Regions from separate parts of the Homo sapiens genome. Here regions 2, 3 and 4 are each linked to region 1. Evidence: fine-mapped expression QTL. A gene starts in region 1. Each other region holds a variant in brackets. All regions are shown on one strand. Distances are from middle to middle. Region 1 holds the start of TAFA2 (TAFA chemokine like family member 2). Region 2 overlaps TAFA2 (TAFA chemokine like family member 2). Region 3 overlaps TAFA2 (TAFA chemokine like family member 2). Region 4 overlaps TAFA2 (TAFA chemokine like family member 2).

Evidence for each region. PIP is the estimated chance that this variant, and not a neighbour inherited with it, causes the effect. A credible set is the group of variants that fine-mapping cannot tell apart.
Region 2: its variant is the best candidate, but not a certain one, in a credible set for the expression of TAFA2 in whole blood (TOPMed, PIP 0.87).
Region 3: its variant is the best candidate, but not a certain one, in a credible set for the expression of TAFA2 in whole blood (TOPMed, PIP 0.65).
Region 4: its variant is the best candidate, but not a certain one, in a credible set for the expression of TAFA2 in aorta (GTEx, PIP 0.51).

The regions. Positions count from the first base shown.
Region 1 is chr12:62,190,217-62,195,216 of GRCh38, forward strand. TAFA2 (TAFA chemokine like family member 2) reads right to left here and starts at 2,557. Exons shown (of 5, transcript NM_178539.5): 1 at 1,043-2,557. RefSeq lists an enhancer at 1,949-2,482 and a silencer at 3,852-4,146.
Region 2 is chr12:62,040,800-62,046,007 of GRCh38, forward strand. All of the region lies in intron 1 of TAFA2 (TAFA chemokine like family member 2), which reads right to left. Among named protein-coding and RNA genes, the nearest start is that of TAFA2, 150 kb to the right of the region's middle. The variant C/T (reference allele first, on the strand shown) is at 2,703.
Region 3 is chr12:62,099,545-62,104,752 of GRCh38, forward strand. The region is part of intron 1 of TAFA2 (TAFA chemokine like family member 2); the gene reads right to left. Among named protein-coding and RNA genes, the nearest start is that of TAFA2, 91 kb to the right of the region's middle. The variant T/A (reference allele first, on the strand shown) is at 3,099.
Region 4 is chr12:62,078,211-62,083,418 of GRCh38, forward strand. All of the region lies in intron 1 of TAFA2 (TAFA chemokine like family member 2), which reads right to left. Among named protein-coding and RNA genes, the nearest start is that of TAFA2, 110 kb to the right of the region's middle. The variant T/TA (reference allele first, on the strand shown) is at 3,188.

The sequences.
Region 1 (5,000 bases):
TCGCGTCCACCCAAAGGCTCTACGAGCGTCTATGGTTCTTCCTTTTCAGACAGGATAACTCAACCTGCAGTTCTGAGAGAAATAGGGCGACGGATCTCAAACTTTCCTTTGCAAAGCCAGTTTCTGAAAATAACACGTTCCCCCATTGATAAGTGAAGATCAGTAGCCTCAAGAAAACAATACTTGGTAGGCACCTGGCCTTTCAGAATTGAAGGGGGAAGGAATGGCAAAGCAGTTAGCAGAAAACCCGGGTACTAGTAGCAAGATCCGGGAGACATCTAACCGGAAAGAAATAAAAAACCATTAGTTTCCCGAAGCCATTCTTATTCTGAACGCTGTTCGTTAAGAGAATCATTTACTAAAGCTCTCTTGTAGTAGCCTTTACAAAAGCTTTATTTCATTCAGTAAGAAAGCGCCCCGTCCCAAATCTAAATAAACCTTACATAGATGAGGCTCCGGAAATTATCAGCTTGATTCTTTATGAAGATAGTTAGAGGTGGATAAATCAATAGACTCGCTGAAACACCCACCTTCTGCAAACAGGCCTGAGAATTAACTAATCAGAAGTGGACAAAAAGTAGGGATTTCAGAAAGATGACCTGACACATCCCATTGATCTTCCCTGGAATGCGACCCCCAACTCCTTATTAAGAGTCCAAAATGGTTACCAGCCAGGATGGGTCTGGGTGAGGAATCGAATTACAACCCACTTCAATCCTCGACCTGGTCGTTTGCTGTTATTAGGAGAAATGGGGCAGAGAGGGAGGGCACCGCTCACGGAGCCTCATTTCGCATGCTCCGATCCCCTCTCGGCGTCCCTCTACTCCGCCCCTACCCTGACCGCCCGCGAGGGAGACGCCGGCCGATGGACCCGCATCTGCCCTCACCTCTCGCCTTCCCCGGGCGATCCCTCTACAGTCCCGGACCCCCGAGAAAGGGGAAGGGAGACGTGTGCACACGGGGGCTTCCGGGACCGCGGTCCTGCAGTTGCCGCTCCGGTCCCCAGCGCTGGCCGGCGACCCGAGGCGCGGCTCGCACCTACCTGCAGCCCCGCTTCCCGGTGGCGGCAACACCTAGCGATGCTCCTGCAGCTTTTGCGGGCCGGCGCCAGCCTTATCGCTCTCGCATCGCTTCCAAGATGCCAATCCGCCGTCACCATCCAGGGGCATAGGGAACCGAAGTCTGGTGCTGTGTGATCGTGGAGGGCGGCGTGTGAGTGTGGCCCTGAGCGTGCGAGTGTGCGCGCGCGTGTGTGGATGTGTTTCCTCCTCCGATGGCAAAGACGGTTCAGGAATCTGACATCCAAGCTGGAATCCCCCTGAAGCGGGTGAAGGTGAGCCTGATCCTTCTCCCCGCTTCTTTATTCCACAGTGTCAAAGTAATCAAAAGATTTGTTTACTGAGGAAAAGCCAAAGTCCCGCAGCCCTTGGCAGCGCCCGCGGTCGCCTCCTGTCCTCGCCGGATGCGCGCGGTGCGCTCAGCTCCCTGGACTGCAAGAATCAAGGCGGTCTTGCTGCAATTACCGCTCTTATTCCATCTCTGATTTGTTTGCTTTTAAGGCCGACTAAAGACTTTTCCTCTCGCCTCACGTCGTCTCTCCCTCTCACACACACACACACTCACACATCCTCCGTTCCCTCTCTCCCGCCCTCCCTCTTGTTCTCTGGGGAAAGGCAATTGGACAGAATGATTCACCTTCAGGAAAGCAGCCTCGGCCACGCACTTCTCGAGTTCCCTGGCTCTCGCAGGTACCGGGTCTCCAACGTGGCGGAGTTGCTGGGAAGCTCGGGACAGGAAGGAGGAGAGGCTCTGAGCTCAGCCGATGTCCCCCCTCCAGACGCCCGCGTTCCTCCGTCCAGGTGCCCCTGTTCCCACTGCTCGCAGATAGGTCCCCGCTGGTGCCCTCGCGGAGACTTGGCGCCTTCCACTCGAATCCACTTAGCAGCAACTCCTGGCCAGCTTCAGCCCCTCAATCCCGCCTCGAAGTGCTGCGGGCAGAGCCCCACGCAGCCCACCCGCTGCCCTTCTAGGCATCGTGGGCTGGAAGGAAGGGAAACCCGCCGATGTCCCCCTGGTAGCAGTGCCCTGGCACCGTCACCACCGAGGAGGTGCGAGTTCCAACATCGAACACAAGCGAGCAGGTGTCGCCTGTGTCACTTTGCTAAAGGCGGGAGGGGAGAAAGAAAGGAGCGGGGGGAGGGGGCCGAGGAAACAAATCCAGATCACCGGCGGAGAAAGAAGCCGTTTAGCAAGCAAAGCCTCCTCTCCGCGTCCCACCCCAGATGCTATACTGTCAAAAGACACTGATGCTAATCTTTTAGAAAGTCGCCATAAAGGGCAGAGCCCCTGCTCCACTCTAGAACCCTATTCCACCCAGCCTGGCTGTCCAGTGAGTACAGAGTGACTTGGCTCCCCCGTATAGTGCAGCGAGAATGCAGGAGAATAGGTCCTGACACTCCAGGTTGAGTTAAGCAGTAAAATGGAATGGCAGGGCCGGGCGGCGTTGCCTCGCCTCTCTCTCCCAACAGCCAGTTCTGTTAGCCCCAGCAACTGCCGTTGAGAGCAAACAACGGTCCTGCAGAAAAAGAACGAGACAGTAAAAGATGAGGAGGCAACTGGTATAAAAGCTGGACTATGTCTCCCTCTAGAGGGTCAACCGGATTAGAACGCTTTACTAGATGTAACAGACCAGTTTCTCTCCATAAAGAAAAAGAAAAAAATATCTGGTTTCAGATAATTTGCATTTTTACAAATTACAACTTCTCAAGGATTTAGACGGAGGATTTTCACTGCAGCCCTATTAAGCAAAGCCCTTGCTAAAGGAACGTCGTGATATTCATGACGCTGGAAGGTCATGTCCTTACATGTTTGGTCAAATTGGGTGTCGGTTTAAGCGCTGTGCATATGAGCTCAAATGAAGGGTCTTCTGAGGCTCACTTCGATCATGTTTGGAGATGAGCAAAACCTTAATCTAGTGATTAGAAGACTATTCAAAAATGAATAATTAGTAAGAATGAATTCAGAAAAAGAAAATCTGAAACAAAGAAAGGGAATGCTGACCCAGGAAATTTTACAAGTCCTTTACAAGGAAAGATAACTCAAGAATCTGGTTTTGGAGCCAGTTTTCATACCTCTTTTTCAACTAGACCAATAATGGTCAAGATAGCTAAATTCCTTCCAGCTCTAAAGGTCTGTGCTTTTATATAGCTGTGATTCACTGAAACCATTGACAAATTAGGTATCACAAGCTCTCTTCACCAGCTATAAAATAAAAGTAATACTACATACCATATTTACAAAGAAATATAGAATATGTGCTTCACTTAGCTATTTTATCTTAACATGCTTAGTAAATCAACCATATTTTGTATCTAAAATGCATCAAGTAATTTAATTATGTTGAGGTGGTCATTTTTATAAAAAATAGCTCCACCGATTTTATAAAGTTTTGTTACATCAGTCCAAATCAAGCTAGGTCCCATCTGTAACCTTAACATTTAGATTTTTGTGAACTTACTATTTGAGCTGGGGGTTTGCTTTCAAAATGTTTCTGTATGTTCAAAAATTGTAAAATGTGTATTAAAGTTATTATTAAACACCCTTCCATTCACTCTGAATTTCTGGAGCAGTTCTATTTTAACTTGATAATCTAAATTAGCACAGTCATAAAGAAAGAAAAGAATGTATTTTTTAAATAGCTGAGACTAGTTGAAATCATTTAAAACAAAGCACCAAAACTAAACAAGGCAAGTTTTACCGTAACTAATTGCTCTATGGCATATTTGACTTTGTCTAGTAGTATACAGCAATCATTTGTTTCCAAGGATCTCTCAGATAGTCTCTTTCAAAAGATTTATGCCATGTGATTAAATATTTCATTCCACTTACATAGTAACTTATATCCAGGAAAGCAACGTTTACATTTTAAAACACCTGGCACTGTTGCACTGCAAATCTTACAGTATTTTTTTGTCTGCTGTGTTCAATAGTGTGATGAAATTCAAGCAGGAATGACATTGGAAACTTGGACTCTGTACTAGAAAGAAGTCACTTACAAAATCACTTTAGAACATTGGCTTTCTTTTCACACACACACACACACACACACACATACAAAAAAACATAAAGCATACATTATAATCTTTCTACCTTCTAATTCATTAACTTTTTGTGGTTGTAATCTATAGTTTTGTCATCTTGTTAAAATTTTATTTGTATTGTTTAAGTGTGGGACATTTTCAGCCTTATTTTTCTAACTAAACCCACTGTGTTTTTACAATATATGAAAAAGTAAAGAGAACAGATATATAAATTAATTACAAAATAGAACAAAATTTCTTATCCAATGTCATATGATGCTGAAATTCTATCATAACCTCTGTGCTTTTTGTAAATAATTCCCAATAATTTTTAGATCAAGATATTCCTATTTCCAGCATCTCCTAGACAAAATAAAATCTTTTGCATTCTCTTCAAAGGAAACAAAGTAGTAAAGATTCTCCTAATTTAACAGAAATTTTTTGTTGATACTTCTTACCTTCTACAGGCATGCCTCAAAAATGTTGCAGGTTTGGTTCCAAACCACCACAAATATTGCAATAAAGTGAGTCACACAATTTTTTTGGTTTCTCAACACATGTGAAAGTTATGTTTACACCATACTGCAGTCCATTAGGTATGCAATAGCATTTTGTCTTAAAAATGTACATATCTTACCTTGAAAATGGTTTAATGCTTTTTTTAAAAAAAGTGTACTGATGATCTGAGCCTTCAGTGATTCCTAATCTCTTTGCTGATGGAGAGTCTTGTTTCAGTGTTGATGGCTGCTGATGGATCAGGGTAGTGGTTGCTGAAGGTTGGAATTGCTGTGGCGATTTCTTAAAATAAGACAATAATGAGGTTTGCTGTGTCAATTGACTCTTCCTTTCACAAAAGATTTCTCTGTAACATGCAATGCTGCTTGATAGCATTTTATCCACAGTAGAACTTCTTTCAAAATT
Region 2 (5,208 bases), 150 kb before region 1:
GAGTGCTATACCATAGGACTGAAGAGGTCAAACTGAATATAAAGAGAGACATGTAAAAATTTCACAGAAACTTCCTAAACAATTATTGTTTTTCTAAAATGACCTTTCTGGTCAAAAGAACAACTTCAACAGGCCATGTGATTAGGAAATCTCAAAATATTTTTGAGCACTTGAGCCGTGAACAAGAAAGACTAATAATAAACAAACACTTATATGTCTAACAAGACCCTATTATTCAGACCGTTTTTATCATTTGTTCTCAAAACAATCTGATGAGGTAGGCAGTATCTATATTGTTCATATCAGAAACTAAAGCTGAGAAAAAACTAATCTTTATGTGAAATTATAAGCCTGCAGGCATTATGTTATTGATTTAACTGTTTTCTTATGTAATATCTACAATCTTCTGAGGGAGGTGTCTTATCCACCTTTCATCGGTCAGAAAACACAGAAATGTTAGGTCAATTGCCCAAGATCAGAGAGCTTTGAAAAAAAGAAAAATTTTCAAAGTCACATCTATTGCCCCCAAAACTCATATTCTTTGCATGGCACTATAACTGGCCTCCTGTGGACTGGTGAACTCCATGAAAAAAGTTATTAAAGTGAGGAAGGTACTGAAAGTGGATTTCGGAAACTAAAGCTTTGTAACTTTACAGAAATAGTTAAAAGATATTTCTCTTATCTAGGACATTGTGCATAAGGTGGCTGAAGAAACCATTCACATAAAGGTAATCAGAGTTTACTGCTGACAAAATAAAATATTTTCCCACAAATGTGTTAGTAAAATGGCTTTTCTGGTCAGGTGAACAACTTTAACTGGTCATCTAGCTAAAGGCAGAATTTGGAAGTAACTATCTGAATTGCATGTATACTTAGTTATTCCTCTCCTCAATAAAGAGTAAAAAATCATCAAGACATAAACCATAGGTACATTACAATATAGAATCTAAGTGCTTTTATTAACATCATGTTTTTGTGCTATGCTTAAGATTACATAAAGGTTTATGCTTTAATAAAGATTTCTCACAACCCTAGAAGATTTTTTTCAAAGATTATCCTACTTCATTTTAAGGCAAACTTTCATTCAGATGTAAATTCTGAAAGAAGATTTCAATATTGCTTAAAATACAAAAATACAAAAGAGCAAATGATATAGCATTCTTTTTATTATGAAATGCTTATTTTCAGAATCCCAGAGCTATAAAGGATCTCTGAGAGGCATTTAATTTATCCATGTGGTCTTAATACTGTATATTAATGTATTTCAAATAATGATCAGGATGGAAAGTCTCAAAGAAGGCCGCCTCCATTGTGGCAACTCCTTCATATCTGAAGGGAATCCTCAAGGCAGAAGACACCCCTTCATGGGGAGTCGTACCCATTCCCAAGCTCTCTTATCCCTACAAGCAAAAGCACGTAAATACTCAACTCTGCTCAGTGTCTAGGTCAATCCTGATCTCATGGAGGAACACTGTTAACAGTTCTAGGCCACAATTAGGTTCAAACAGAAACAGCATAAGTCTCCTTGGCTGCTAATCCAGTTCAGGTGCTTGCATCCCAATTCTGACCACCAGATTTAGTCCTAAATTCTGCATTGAAGTCTGTGTGTGTGTGTGTGTGTGTGTGTGTGCGCGTGTGTGTGTGTGTGTGTGACATGCATAATGCAAGTATGTCTCAAAAACTGAGACTTTGCCTTCATCTGGCCAGTGTCCCTGCTGGAATAGAGCCTTGCCCTGAATTCTGTTCTAGTACCTGAAACCTTACTATTAGTTGAATGGTTTCTCTTGTTTTACCAGCCTACATATCTACCTAGAATCCTAAGTACTTGCATGATATTACTTTACCTTGCCTATCAAAACACTTATAACTCCATGATGAGCCTATATTTTTTCTGTTACTATACATCTTTATAATGTGCCCTCCATATCATCAACTGTATTGAACCACACATATCATCTCAATGCCTGCCTCATTCCAGCGGGGTCGCCTGTAAGCATAATCTATCCTGGCAAGGTTAATTGTGCTACATCCAGCCCAGTCTTAAACACAACCTGTGTGGTGACCATTCCTTGGATCTGCCCCAATGCAAGACCGTCAGCACCCTGCCTTTCCTCCCCTTCTGTAGGGTCCTCATCATCAGAACTTAATAATTTCTAAAGATCACTATAGTTTTATAAAATAAAAATTATATCTTCAATAAAAGGGGGATAGAGATGTCAGCCACAGATAACAAGGACAAAAGTAACATTTATAAGTAGTTATTTTTCATTCCTAAAACAGAAATGTAAAATATGTCATTTTAATTCACAATATTTTAATGTATGTATTAAATCCTGCTGTATTTAAGAAGAATATTTTCATTTAATTAGTTTATTGCGGCACTATTCACACTAGCAAAGACTTGGAACCAACCCAAATGTCCAACAACGATAGACTAGATTAAGAAAATGTGGCACATATACACCATGGAATACTATGCAGCCATAAAAAATGATGAGTTCATGTCCTTTGTAGGGACATGGATGAAACTGGAAACCATCATTCTCAGCAAACTATCGCAAGGACAAAAAACCAAACACCACATGTTCTCACTTACAGGTGGGAATTGAACAATGAGAACACATGGACACAGGAAGGGGAACATCACACTCCGGGGACTGTTGTGAGGTGGGGGTAGGGGGGAGGGATAGCATTAGGAGATA[C/T]ACCTAATGTTAAATGGCGAGTTAATGGGTGCAGCACACCAACATGGCACATGTATACATATGTAACAAACCTGCACATTGTGCACATGTACCCTAAAACTTAAAGTGTAATAATAATAAAATTTAAAAAAAAGAATTATTATGGTAACTGAATCTCAAGTATTAATTAAATATATCTTTAAATTTTACTTGGTGTTTTTATATTAAGCATCTTGCAAGGAATCTAAGATCTTCAAAGGTAAGAATTATATCTTGCATATAATACATGATAGTTTCATCCTATGTCAAATCCATAAATCCCTACACATTGATTGAAACCACATGCTGGGGCATTTTATGGAGATTTGTAAAAGCTTTGCTGGCATTAGATTGAAGGCTGTATTAACAATTATGATAACTACTTTGGAAAAATAAAACAAACGAGGGAAAGCACAGAAAAGTTACAAGTGGCACTTGTTCTAACACTCTAAAGCAAATATAATCCCCTTCAATTCACAAAACTATTAATTACTCTCGAGGCTTGCAAGTGTTCTACACAATCTGCAAACCTTTTTCCATCTTTGCAATGCATACTTTCAGACATAGAGGTATTTGAGAACCCACTAACAGTATGCTCCTAAGGTATTATTGGGCAGTGGGTGTTAAAAAAAAAAAGTATTTTTTTAAGATACCAGGAAAACTCAGATTCCAAAATCTCCTCTACTCCTCATGTATTTCCTATTGTTTGAATTGCCGAAAGCTTTTTAGTTCAAGTTCTTAATACTAGTAAAATTGGCAATAATCTGAGTGTTTTAACATTTGAAACTTCTACCATATTTATACTACTTAGAGTAACAAAAAGTCTATAATTACAAAAAGTGGTGAGAGGAAATGGATCACAAGGATGCTAAGAATCTAAGTCTGGGAAAGGGGCTATCAAAAGGGAGCAAAGGGCAAGATTCTGGGGATAAAACAAGACCAAGTGTGGACATTTCCCACAAGTAAAGAAAGCCCGCATAACCTGAATTCTGGCTTACACCAGGCAGGTGTCAGCGTGGCACAGACCAAGAGAACCAGGACTAATAAACATGAAGATGGCAAGTGATTTTCAACTCAGGCTCCTGCTCTTTTTGTCCAGCTCCACTGTTTGCTTCCTACCTGCTGTTAAATCAACAGTCCTAGGCAGACTTCAGTCACGTGCCAAACAACATGGGGGCCAACTGGTTTTGGAAAAGTTCATGAGAACTAGGCTCCATCTTTATCTTTCTGCCTTTTTAGGTACTGCTATCCAAATGCTGGTTGAACAGCTGAGCTTAAAATCTCTCCCAGATATAATGGAAAAATGAAGGCAAACGATCAATCTCCTGCAAGCTTCTAAACCATGTGAGAACAGAATAAGACCCAGGATGATCAGGCTGAATTCTGCTTCCCCTAAAATTTGGCAGAGAAGCACCTCCATCTGTGTTCCTTGGGCCCTTGGAAAATCACTGTGCCTGACATTTTAAGGCCCTGGATACCAAAGACAACATTCTTTTTGCAGGGAAGAACAGACTGAATCATCCGTTAGATATAGCAATAGCTTTCTTTATGGAGAAACCTAACTAGCTTATCTGGCAGACATCTGAGGCACAGATACTCTTTACTTAATGTAGACACAGCCTAGGTCGTACAGAAAAATAAATAAGAATGTACTTCCAAAGAAATATAAATCCATACAATTAAATTGATTTCATTCATGCTCCAGTTGCCCTGTTCATTTCCAACTTTTTTTATGCTGATACCTTCCCTCCCAACTTCTCTGTTCATGCTTGGGCTCACACATTCTCTTAATCTGTTAATTATCTGTATTAGTTATTCATTAAATACTATATGCTTTTGGCTGGAACCTGACCAAGAAATTTTTTTTAAGTTTCATGCTCTCCTGGGAATAACTTATAAGACAAAAATCCAGATTTCATCACACGATGCACGTAGTGACCTCCCTGGGGGAGATGTTACCAGTAAAACAAAGCTGCTTTCTGTCAAAGCAAAGTGCTGTGGATTCTGAAATTTGAAGCCAAAAATAAAATATTCACAAACAACCAAAATATTTATGATTAAAGATGTTATGCTTTCAAAATTATGCTCTACAAACTTTTGCTATGTCTTCTATTAAAAAGCAGTAGCCTAATGCTAAAGTGTCAGATTCTAACCTGAAGCTATTTTAGATGTTCCTGTTTTTAAAAATTGAGAAACACTATATGTAGAGAATCTAATGTTTTTTTCTTTTTCCTCTCTCCTTACCAAAATCAATCAAATTACAATGGCTACCCAGAACAGTATGAGGGAAACTTTATCATTCACAACACATACATAACCAACAGCAAGGAGGCTACCCTAACCAGTATTGTATACAGAGTGTCAACAAAAGACAGGAAAGAATACAAACTGCCTGCTGTAAGGAAGACCAGAGCAAGAGATCTGAGAGCTAACGGAGAACTTAAGAATGAGAACTGTGATCCAAAAGAAATTCTGAGGGAAAATAAGA
Region 3 (5,208 bases), 91 kb before region 1:
GTTCAATGACCATTTATGCATAGGATGTGCATTATAAATTTAACTTCCAGTCGGAGAAATAGCAATGCAGTAAAATCTCATTGAGAATGGAGCATTTTAGATAAATAAATTTTGCCAAGCATATGAGGAGGCAAATAATACACCAAGAGCCAGCAATATGCCAGGCCCTTGCTGGCTGCACTTCACATATATGATGTCATCCCAGCCCCGTGGCACCCCTGCATGGTGGGAAGTATCCCCTTCACTTTACAGATCAGTAAACCAAAGCTCAGAGCATAAGTAACTTGCCCACATCACTTCAGCCTAAGAGATGGATCTGGATGCAAATACAGTCTGACTCTGAGTCAGAAAAATTTTTTTCATTTAGATGATGTTTTATTCAATAAATGCTTATAAAATGAGAACAAATTATAGATGTAAATATTCTTTTAAAGTAGAAAATATTGAATGTATTTTCTCAAAGTCTCAAGGATAATTATCAATATGAATTTTTTTATTTTTCTTGTTATCCCTCAAGGTCAAGTTTTTGATTATTCCACTTCCTGTCATTATGTCTGCCACAAACACTGCCTCTTCATAATAGCAACTCCCTCTACACACACACACACACACACACACACACACACAGCCCTTCAAGTTTGTTCTTTCAATCTTCTCTGGGTGGGAAACGAGAACACCATGTTGTTTAACTATTATATGTTCATTGAGAGCCATTAAAATTCTGGAAGAACTGAAAAAGTCAATTCCATGTTACCAAAGTCTTTGAAACCACTATGTCAGAGGCCTCCTTGGTTTATTCCCTTACTCCTAGTAACATTTACATCCCAAAGGACTGAAATTTCAGAAATGAAGGCTGGAGATAGAAAATTGCTTCCAAATACATGAAAAGTGGCTGTATTTATACCCCTGTACAGTTTGGTCTGAGATTTCTGGTATACTAGCTAACTTCTAAATATAGACTCCAGCAATGATTTATGGACTAGATCATATTTGCAATCCCTTACCCACCTGTTAGATCACTTGAAAATCTTGTTATAGCCTATATCATACATCTCATCCCATCCAGTCATCCTAAAAGAACAGTGTAGACCTTTCTATAACAATGAAGATCATCACTTGTGTACTTCTTGAATGTCAAGCACTGCACTAGGCACTCTGCATGCAGTGACTCACTAATCTCATAAGCAAACAGTTCTGCCCATTGTGGTATGCACATTGTGCTCTTCAAAACTTTTGAGTGCCAGTTATATGGACTACTAGGTGAGTGGTACTCCTTGCAAATGTACAATGCCCAACCTACACAGTGGCATAAAGGTAGGTATTATTGGATTCCCATGGCACAGAAATTGAGGAAACTGAAGCGTAAAAGTTTAAGTGATATAGGTATGTCAGGAAAAAAGGTCTTAATCACTGTGTTATACTGCACCCTACATTTTCCTACAGAATAATGTTGAGTTTTGATACCTTAAAACATACCCATACTTGCAGACACTTCAGATATATCTATACACAAGCACTCAGAATGCAGAAATGGCCTAGGTTAGTAGATTACCCAACAACAACTATCTACTTCTCAAGAGTGCCCCAGAATAAACCAGGACCCAGAAGAGTCCTGATGATCCTAAGAGACCCCTCAAATATAAGAACAGCTCCATAGATTAGATTATGGAACGAATTACCCATGCCCACCTAAGATCCCTAAGAGCCAATACATACATGACTAATGGATTTAACCAATACAGTGCCATGGCTGACATCAAATTATCAAACTAATTCCTAAATGAGTCTATAGGTGCTAAGAACTGATACATCTCTGATCCATAACCATGTCCAGTACGAATTTGGACTTAGCTGGAAATATACACTGAATACACTTTGCATTTACCTGGAGATGCACACTCATCATGCAATACTTGGTAACCAAATTTCCCTAGATTGTTAGTTCTTCCATAAGCCCAAACGTAACTCTTATTCAGAAAGGTAAACACTGTAGAGTTCAAGCAGGTTCCAAGGCAGCTCTGCAGCTGATAAGCCACAGAACCTTTTGTGCAGCTTCTATAAGAGCAATCCATCAGATGGCATGTACCATCACTACCCTACACAGTAAGTTCTACTTCAGCACAGTAGGAATGGACCATTTCTGGAGTCTATTTGAGAGCCCTTTCATTTATCTCAATTTTTACTGTTTACTGAGTACCTACTCTAAGTCTAATACTAGCCAATGGTATAGCACTAGCCAATGGTATATTGAAATGAAAGTGTAGCACTAGCCAATGGTATATTGAAATGAAAAGGAATAGTCCCTGTCCTCAAAGAACCCACAGGAAAAGGAAGGAGGAAGATGTAAAAATAGATAAATCCTAAAACACATAGTAGTGCTGACAAAATGGTGAAAGAGCAATTAGCTCTGCCTGTGGGTGGGACAGGAGGTTGGAGAAAGATTCATAGAAAAAAAAAAGTGACAGTACTAATGGGTCTTGGAGGACAAGTAGGAGTTTGCCTAGTTAAGAAGCTGAGGTGGAGAGCAGGTGGGAGAAAGCTGTTTCTTGCTATATAATTAACTGCAAGAGCATAAAAGGAAATTTTCTTCCTGCTTTCATTATACTTGTGCTTTGTCCTCCCTTGATTATATTTTCTTTGAGTTTAAAGTAAGCAATCAGGGGAGATTCACTAGAATGTTATTTGGATTGAAGTGGAATGGTCTGGGTTCAGGTAGAAACTATTGCTATTTTTAAAATATTTTTCTGGGTCCATTAAAAAATCAGCTGCAATATCATGACTTTTCAACAGTTCATGTTGTGAAAACATGAGATATTTTTCTTCAGAAAAGTGTAACTTGAAGGTCACAATTAAATTAAACATCAACATTTATTAAGATCAAGTTAATACTCTCTGAAAATTAGATTACTCCCCCCAGTGTGTATTTAAATTGACAGCTGGTGACTAGGGTAACGTGTTCCACATTGTTGCACCATAGCAACATAGAAATCTTTACAGAATGTACAATGATTGCTGAAATGGTGATTCCTGAGATCTTTTCCAGTAAACCCCATGAGCTGAACTACTTCCTAAACAGCAGTGTCAGAAGTGTTCTAAAC[T/A]ACATGGCTTTATAGAGAACTCCAGAGCTACCTCCTAAATCTGAACAATTCCTGTATTATGATACAATAATGTACTCTGGACCCAATTTCCTCATCAGCTTAAAGAAAGAGAAAAATACTAAGATGTATTACGGTAGAGGAAAAATAAGCTAGCACATATTTAGGTAAATCATATATCTACCATGTTTAATACTCATAGACTTCACTTAAGAAGACTCTAGGGCTGTCCTGAGCACAGTTGGTCCATCGCCTTTGTATCTGTCTTATCAGCAGTCTACTACAGTCTCTCCAAAGAGGAGAGAAACTTATGTTTCCCACATATATTCTGGGTAGTACTAGCCTCGACTTCTCTTTCTACAGCACATCCTTGTGCTCATGCAACCTCTAGCCCTGCTGACAATAGATGTGTGAACTCAATTTCATGACTCCCATTCATCTGATCAGAGTTCACACTCAGAAAAGTTGAAGAAAAGCATCTTTTAACACTGTCATCTTACACTCATTACAGCTGAAATCAGAAGCATCGCACTGGAGGAAACGTTGACCAAAATCCTGTTTGCTGTTCATTCAGAAATGTTGCTTCCCCAGAACTTCTGGCATTCACCTTGCTAACACTGACTACTTCTTCAAATCTGTAATATTTGCTGTATGTCTAGCTGGATGTTTTCATTTCCAATTTCATCCTAAGGTCAAAATCACACACTTACCCCATCAGAACCAGCAATGATCTGTTATTATCCAGTCCAATATATGAAGGGTGTCTTCAAACAGCAACTAGAGTTGTGCAGAATGGCTTATTAAAGACTACATGCTTCCGGCCAGGCATGGTGGCTCACACCTGTAATCCCAGCATTACAGGGAGGCTGAGGCAGATGGATCACCTGAGGTCAGGAGTTCGAGACCAGCCTGACCAACATGGAGAAATCCCATCTCTACTAAAAATATAAAATTAACCAGGTGTGATGGCGTATGCCTGTAGTCCCAGCTACTCGGGAGCCTGAGGCAGGAGAACCGCTTGAACCCGGGAGGCGGAGGTTGCGGTGAGCCAAGATTGCGCCATTGAACTCCAGCCTGGGCAACAAGCATGAAACTCCTTCTCAAAAAGAAAAAAAAAAAAAAGACTACATGCTTCCTCATAAACACCTGGGAACTGGAGGGGCAGGATGGTATGCATTGATAGGAAATGATACAAATGATAAATGAACAATGTCTAATTATTCAGGCATTGCTCAGACTCAGAGACAAAAGCAGGAAAACTGAGAGTTAGGGATGAAACTCCATCCTCCTCTAACCCTATTGTGCCTGTGTACTGCAGTACATATTAAAGTAACATCAAGACCTATTTTTAGACTTCTGCAATTCCACAGGCATAAATCATTCCTGTACCACAAGTCACCTTTGAGTTGGCAATGCCAAGTTTAACATTTTGCAGAATCCTACAATATAATTGAAAGCAAGTGATATTTAAAATGAATAGTGATAATTTTAATAGAATAAAATTAGCCTAAATATAGCTTGTTTGAGGGAATTTATTGAGTAATAATTAAAAGGAAAAGTGACAAACGTGCCATTTAGCTAATCCTATCTTCACAATAGCTTTCACAGTTGAATTTGGAATGCTGTTCTTCTGAAGCAAAAAAAAAAAAAGCTAATGTAATGGTCTTTTTCTTTTTACATAATATTGATTAACCCTCAGCGATTTTAGACACCAGGGTTTGCTCTGAATTGCGCATCTGATTAAAGAAGGAAAAGCATAGTACAACTAAAGTCACAAGCTGGTCAAAGTGTTACTTTTTATATTAGCCCGTGTCTTTTGTTGAGGAGAATTAAAAACAAAATCTTTTCCCAACCCAGAAATCTTATCCATAAAAGTAGCAAGAAAGAAAACATTTTTACCATTGAATAAGCATTAAACCAAAATGGAATGTGCATCATAGGTAATCTGCTTAGAGATTCCAGAGAATGAAAGAAATCTCACTCTTGTATACAGCCACACAGATACAAATCATTACATACATATTTTCAAGATAAGCAATAACTAGTCCTCAACTAAGAGGACTTGATGGTACAATTTGTCATGCACGCTTCATCCTAAATTTACCTGGTAATC
Region 4 (5,208 bases), 110 kb before region 1:
CTAACTTACCCGGCCAAGCTGAATTCCTAACCATAAAAGGCAGAGCCTAACGTTTACCTCCTTGAACAATGTCTCCCAAGGTTGCTAAAGTGGGACTCTGGTATTCCTGATAAGAAACTGACCATCTCCCAAGGTTACAAAAGGAAGAGTCTGGCATTCCCCATAAGAACTATGCACACGTACCCTAAAACTTAAAGTATAATTGGAAAAAAAAAAAAAAGAACTGGATCAGATCCAGCCAGCTAAAGACAAGTTGGACTCAGCACTGGCCTTTCACTGATTTTTTTCCTCTTCATAATCTCATTATAATACTAAAATCACACCCAGGGGTGTAGATTTAACAGGCCAATGAGACATATGACACATAAAGAAGCATGTTATCAGACTGTGCAGATGCTAAAAATTCCCCACCTCTACGTGCCTACACATCACTCCTTTTCTCGCTTCAGCTTCCTTAAAATGACAAGAGCTTAGCCCTTTGGGGAGCTGGCACCAGGATCTCTTTCCCTTATGCTCCTCCCTTGTCTTGCTAGAGCTGCAAGCCTATTAAACCTTGCCTGAGAAAAATTTCTTTTTGGCGTGATGTTAATTTCTATTTATGCAAGAGCCAATATTTATCTGAACTACAGTGACACTCTGGGTACCTCCATCATGAGCTATGGCCTTCATATCACCAGAGCAATGCCATGTGCGACAGGAGGAAGAGGGAAGAACACTAAAATGCTCCACCCTGGTTCACTTTGTCCCCTGGAGATCCATGTAGTTCAGCTTATGGGCATGTTTCACAAATTTTTCTTAAAAACAATTCTTTAGCTTCCAACTACAGCCTTTCTTTCTAAAGGACTCGAGTGTTGCCAGTGAAGTCACACTGAGTTTACGATGCCATGTTATCATCTGCAGCTGCCCCTCTCTCCAGCGTCAGCTCTTCAGGAACCACACACTAACATCTCCCTTGCAGGATGCTTTCCTCTAAACAAGTCTACCCATGAACAAAGAAGCCTAGGGAAATTGTTGGTCCCATACACCCAGCTACAACTGGATCACCCATACATGCCTCTCTATCAAATATATATTTTATCAATTAATTGCAAATTAGTTGATATTCCTGATAGGCCTCTGGGACTGTAGACAACACTGTGGCTTGATAAAAGTTTAACAGTGGCCGGGCGCCGTGGCTCACACCTGTAATCCCAGCACTTTGGGAGGCTGAGGAGGGCTGATTGCCTGAGGTCAGGAGTTTGAGACCAGTCTGGCCAACATGGTGAAACCCCGTCTCTACTAAAAATACAAAAAAAAAAAAAAAATTAGCCAGACATAGTGGCATGTGCCTGTACTCCCAGCTACTCGGGAGACGGAGGCAGGAGAATTGCTTGAACCAGGGAAGTAGAGGTTGCAGTAAGCCGAGATCGTGCCACTACACTCCAGCCTGGGTGACAGAGCAAGACTCTGTCTCAAAAAAAAAAAAAAATTTTTAACAGCATGTTGTTACTAAATCTGTGATCAAAAATCAACATTCCTGTCTCAAAATAATTCTAGGATATTCAGGTTAATCTGACCCAATCTATCCACTTTTATCAGGTGAAGCTTCTCACAAAAAAAGTGCATCAAGCAGCACACTAACAGCAAAGTCAGTATCTTCCCTCTTTATTAATTCTCTACTGCCACATCGCAAATTACGACAAACTTGACAGCTTAAAACAATACCCACTTATTAGCTCACAGTTCTACAGGTCAGAATTTCAGGCACAAAGAGACTGGTTTCTCTGCTCAGATCTTATAGGCTAAAATCAAGGGGTCAGCCAGGCTGCATTCTCATCCGGAGCTCAAGTGCTCTTCCAAGACCATGTAATGGTAGCAGAATTCAGTTCCTTGAAGTTGTAGAACTGTGGTCCCCAATTCATCACTCTCTGTCAGCAGAGGCTGCTCAGCTCTGAGGGGCCAGCTACAATTCTTGCCATAGGGCCCCCTTCATCCTCAAAGCAAGCAACAAAGATTCTCCCTTATGTCAAAGGGATATGTATATCCCACTCACTTAGAATCCCTTTCTCCAGGAAATGCCCAGTCTCTTTTAAAAGCTTACCTGATTCGGTCAGGCTTATCAAGGATGTTTTTCTTGTCTTAAAGTCCCTTTTATTCACAGTTCTGGCCCACTCTTGAAGGCAGAGGATTATACAAGTATGTACAGGGGGTGAAAATCTTGGGGGTTGTCTTAAAATTCTGCCTACCACATTACCCTTCCTACTGATAATAGTTTCTTTCTACCACATAATCATGCACTAAATTGAATTATCCCCTGGGTAGAAAGAAAAGAAAAAAAAAAAGTAAAAGTGAATCATAGACATGGGAATGAATGTGTGCTACTGGTATGGCTTCTCTGATTTGACACATATGTGAACTTTACAAAATTCTAAAATCTATACATAATGTAGTGTGCATCTATTAAATCCCTGAACTTCTTTGGTCTTCAGTTTCATAATTTGTAAAACAATGATTGCCACTTTGTATGAAATAGTCATAAATACAGTCATAAATAAAATATTTATATTCTAAAATTTACAAGGTGACGGAAATGAAAAAAATGGTCTCAACTTATCTTTCTGTTAATGTCCATGAAAAGTAATCTCTACAACAGGTTCATTAAAAAGTAGCCTCCTAAACCTTTGATAAATGATCTATTTGACCTTGCATTAAAACATTCCCCTGGCCAGGCGCGGTGGCTCACGCCTGTAACCCCAGCACTTTGGGAGGCCAAGGCGGGCGGATCACGAGGTCAGGAGATCGAGACCATTCTGCCTGACACGGTGAAACCCTGTCTCTACGAAAAGACACAAAAAATTAGCCGGGCGTAGTGGGGGGCGCCTGTAGTCCCAGCTACTCGGGAGGCTGAGGCAGGAGAACAGCGTGAACCCGGGAGGTGGAGCTTGCAGTGAACCGAGATCGCGCCACTGCACTCCAGCCTGGGCGACAGAGCGAGACTCCATCTCACAAAAAAAATTCCCCTATATATTATTTCTATTTATAGAATTTTAAGAAAATATTTGCAATTATTTAATCACTTTAATTTTTCAAGTTACTTTCATAATTATTGTCACATTCGTTATTTAAAAAACTATATAAAATAGGTAAAACATGAATTACTTTCTTCATTTCACAAGTGGAAAAAACCCTGAGTCTGAGAAAGAATAAA[T/TA]ATTTTTCCACAGCAAGTTAGGTAAAGAACCAAGAAGCAGATTCCAATTTTTTTCTTCAACTTGTTTTTTTTGTTTTTTATTTTGTTTGTTTGTTTGTTTGTTTTGATATGGAGTCTCTCTCTGTCACCCAGGCTGGAGTACGGTGGTGCAATCTCGACTCACTACAACCTCCGCCTCCCAGGTTCAAGTGATTCTCCTGCCTCAGCCTCTCAAGTAGCTGGGACAACAGGAGCCCGCCACCACACCTGGCTAATTTTTGTATTTTTAGTAGAGACGGGGTTTCACTTTTTTGGCCAGGCTTGTCTTGAACTGCTGACCTCAAATGATCCGCCCGCCTCAGCCTCCCAAAGTGCTGTGATTACAGGCATGAGCCACCGCGCCCAACCTCTTCAACTTGTATTTTAAGTTCAGGAGTACATGTGCAGGATGTGCAGGTTTGTTAGGTAGGTAAACGTGTGCCATGGTGGTTTGCTGCACAGATCATCCCATCACCTAGGTATTAGGCCCAGCATCCGTTAGCTATTCTTCCTGATGCTCTCCCTCCCCTCCTCCCCACCCCCGACAGGCCCCAGTGTATGTTGTTACCCCCATGTGTCCATGTGTTCTCATTGTTCAGCTCCCACTTATAAGTGAGAATATACAGTGTTTGGTTTTCTGTTTCAGCATTAGTTTGCTGAGGATAATGGCTTCCAACTCCATCCATATCCCTGCAAAGGACATGATCTCATTCCTTTTTATGGCTGCCTAGTATTCTATGATGTATTTGTACCAAATTTTCTTTTATCCAGACTATCATTGATGGACATTTAGGTTGATTCTATGTCTTTGCTATTGTGAGTAGTGCCACAGTGAACATATGTGTGCATGTATCTTTATAATAGAACAAATTATATTCCTTTGGGTATATACCAGTAATGGAATTTCTGGGTCAAATGGTATTTCTGCCTCTAGGTTTTTTCTAATGTGGCCTGAGGCACTTCCTATTCCACTAATGCTCCTTTCATCTTTAGTAGTAAGCAGCTATTTTTTTAAGGTGTACAAATATCACATCTTGTTTATCTTGCATTCCAAGGGGCATAGCACAGTCAATGTTTGTTGATGCAACCAACATTGAGCACTGCTAAGTGCCAGATATGGTTCCAAGCAGTGAGGCGCTGGGGCTATCTGACACACATGACACAGCCCTGCTTTCATGAAGCTTGTCAAGTTTAGATATTTCTTCCAAGGAGCATGATTTCTGACTAAGTCTCCAAGGAGCACTTAAACATCTGAGCACATAGAATCTTTTGATGTAGGATATGAAGTCAAGCAAAGGAAACAGTAATTACATCAAGTATTGAAATAATAACCAGTCACCAACTCATCACAGTGGAACATTTCAATTGAATTCTGAAGAATATTCAATATAAATTTAAAATATAGCCTCTAAGAATAATTTATGTCATTTAGTCATTCACAAAAAAGGAAACTTAACACTTAACACAAGATATACTATTAATCTGCATTGCTCTACAGTGATTTTTTTTCCATTTAATCCTTGCAACATCCCTTTGAGAGTAGGTGCTATTACTAACCTCCTTTTACAGATGAGGAAACCAAGGCAAAAACAGAAACTTGCCCAAGATCACACAGCCAGTAAAAGCCAAGATCTAAATCCCCAGTATCTCATTCTGGAATTCAGGCTTTTAACCAGTAGGCTCTGTTACCCAGTAAATATTTGCTGAGCATCTTCTAAATTCCAGGCACCGGGGATTGAAAAGCTGTTTTCGTTTTATTAATAGGATTATGAACTGAAGGAGAAATCTGATCTGATATAAATCTCGTATGACCTGATTTGCATATGAGCTTATCTGAATCATTTCTTTGGGTGGAAAATGCACTACTACAGTTTCTATAAGTTTCTGAATGGTAATGACAACTTCTTCCTTCTATACCTCCCTGCTATTACAAGAGTGTCTTCTCAGAAGAGAGTAAAGGAGTTTCCAAAAAGAAGAAAAATACTTATTGGACACCCCCTAGC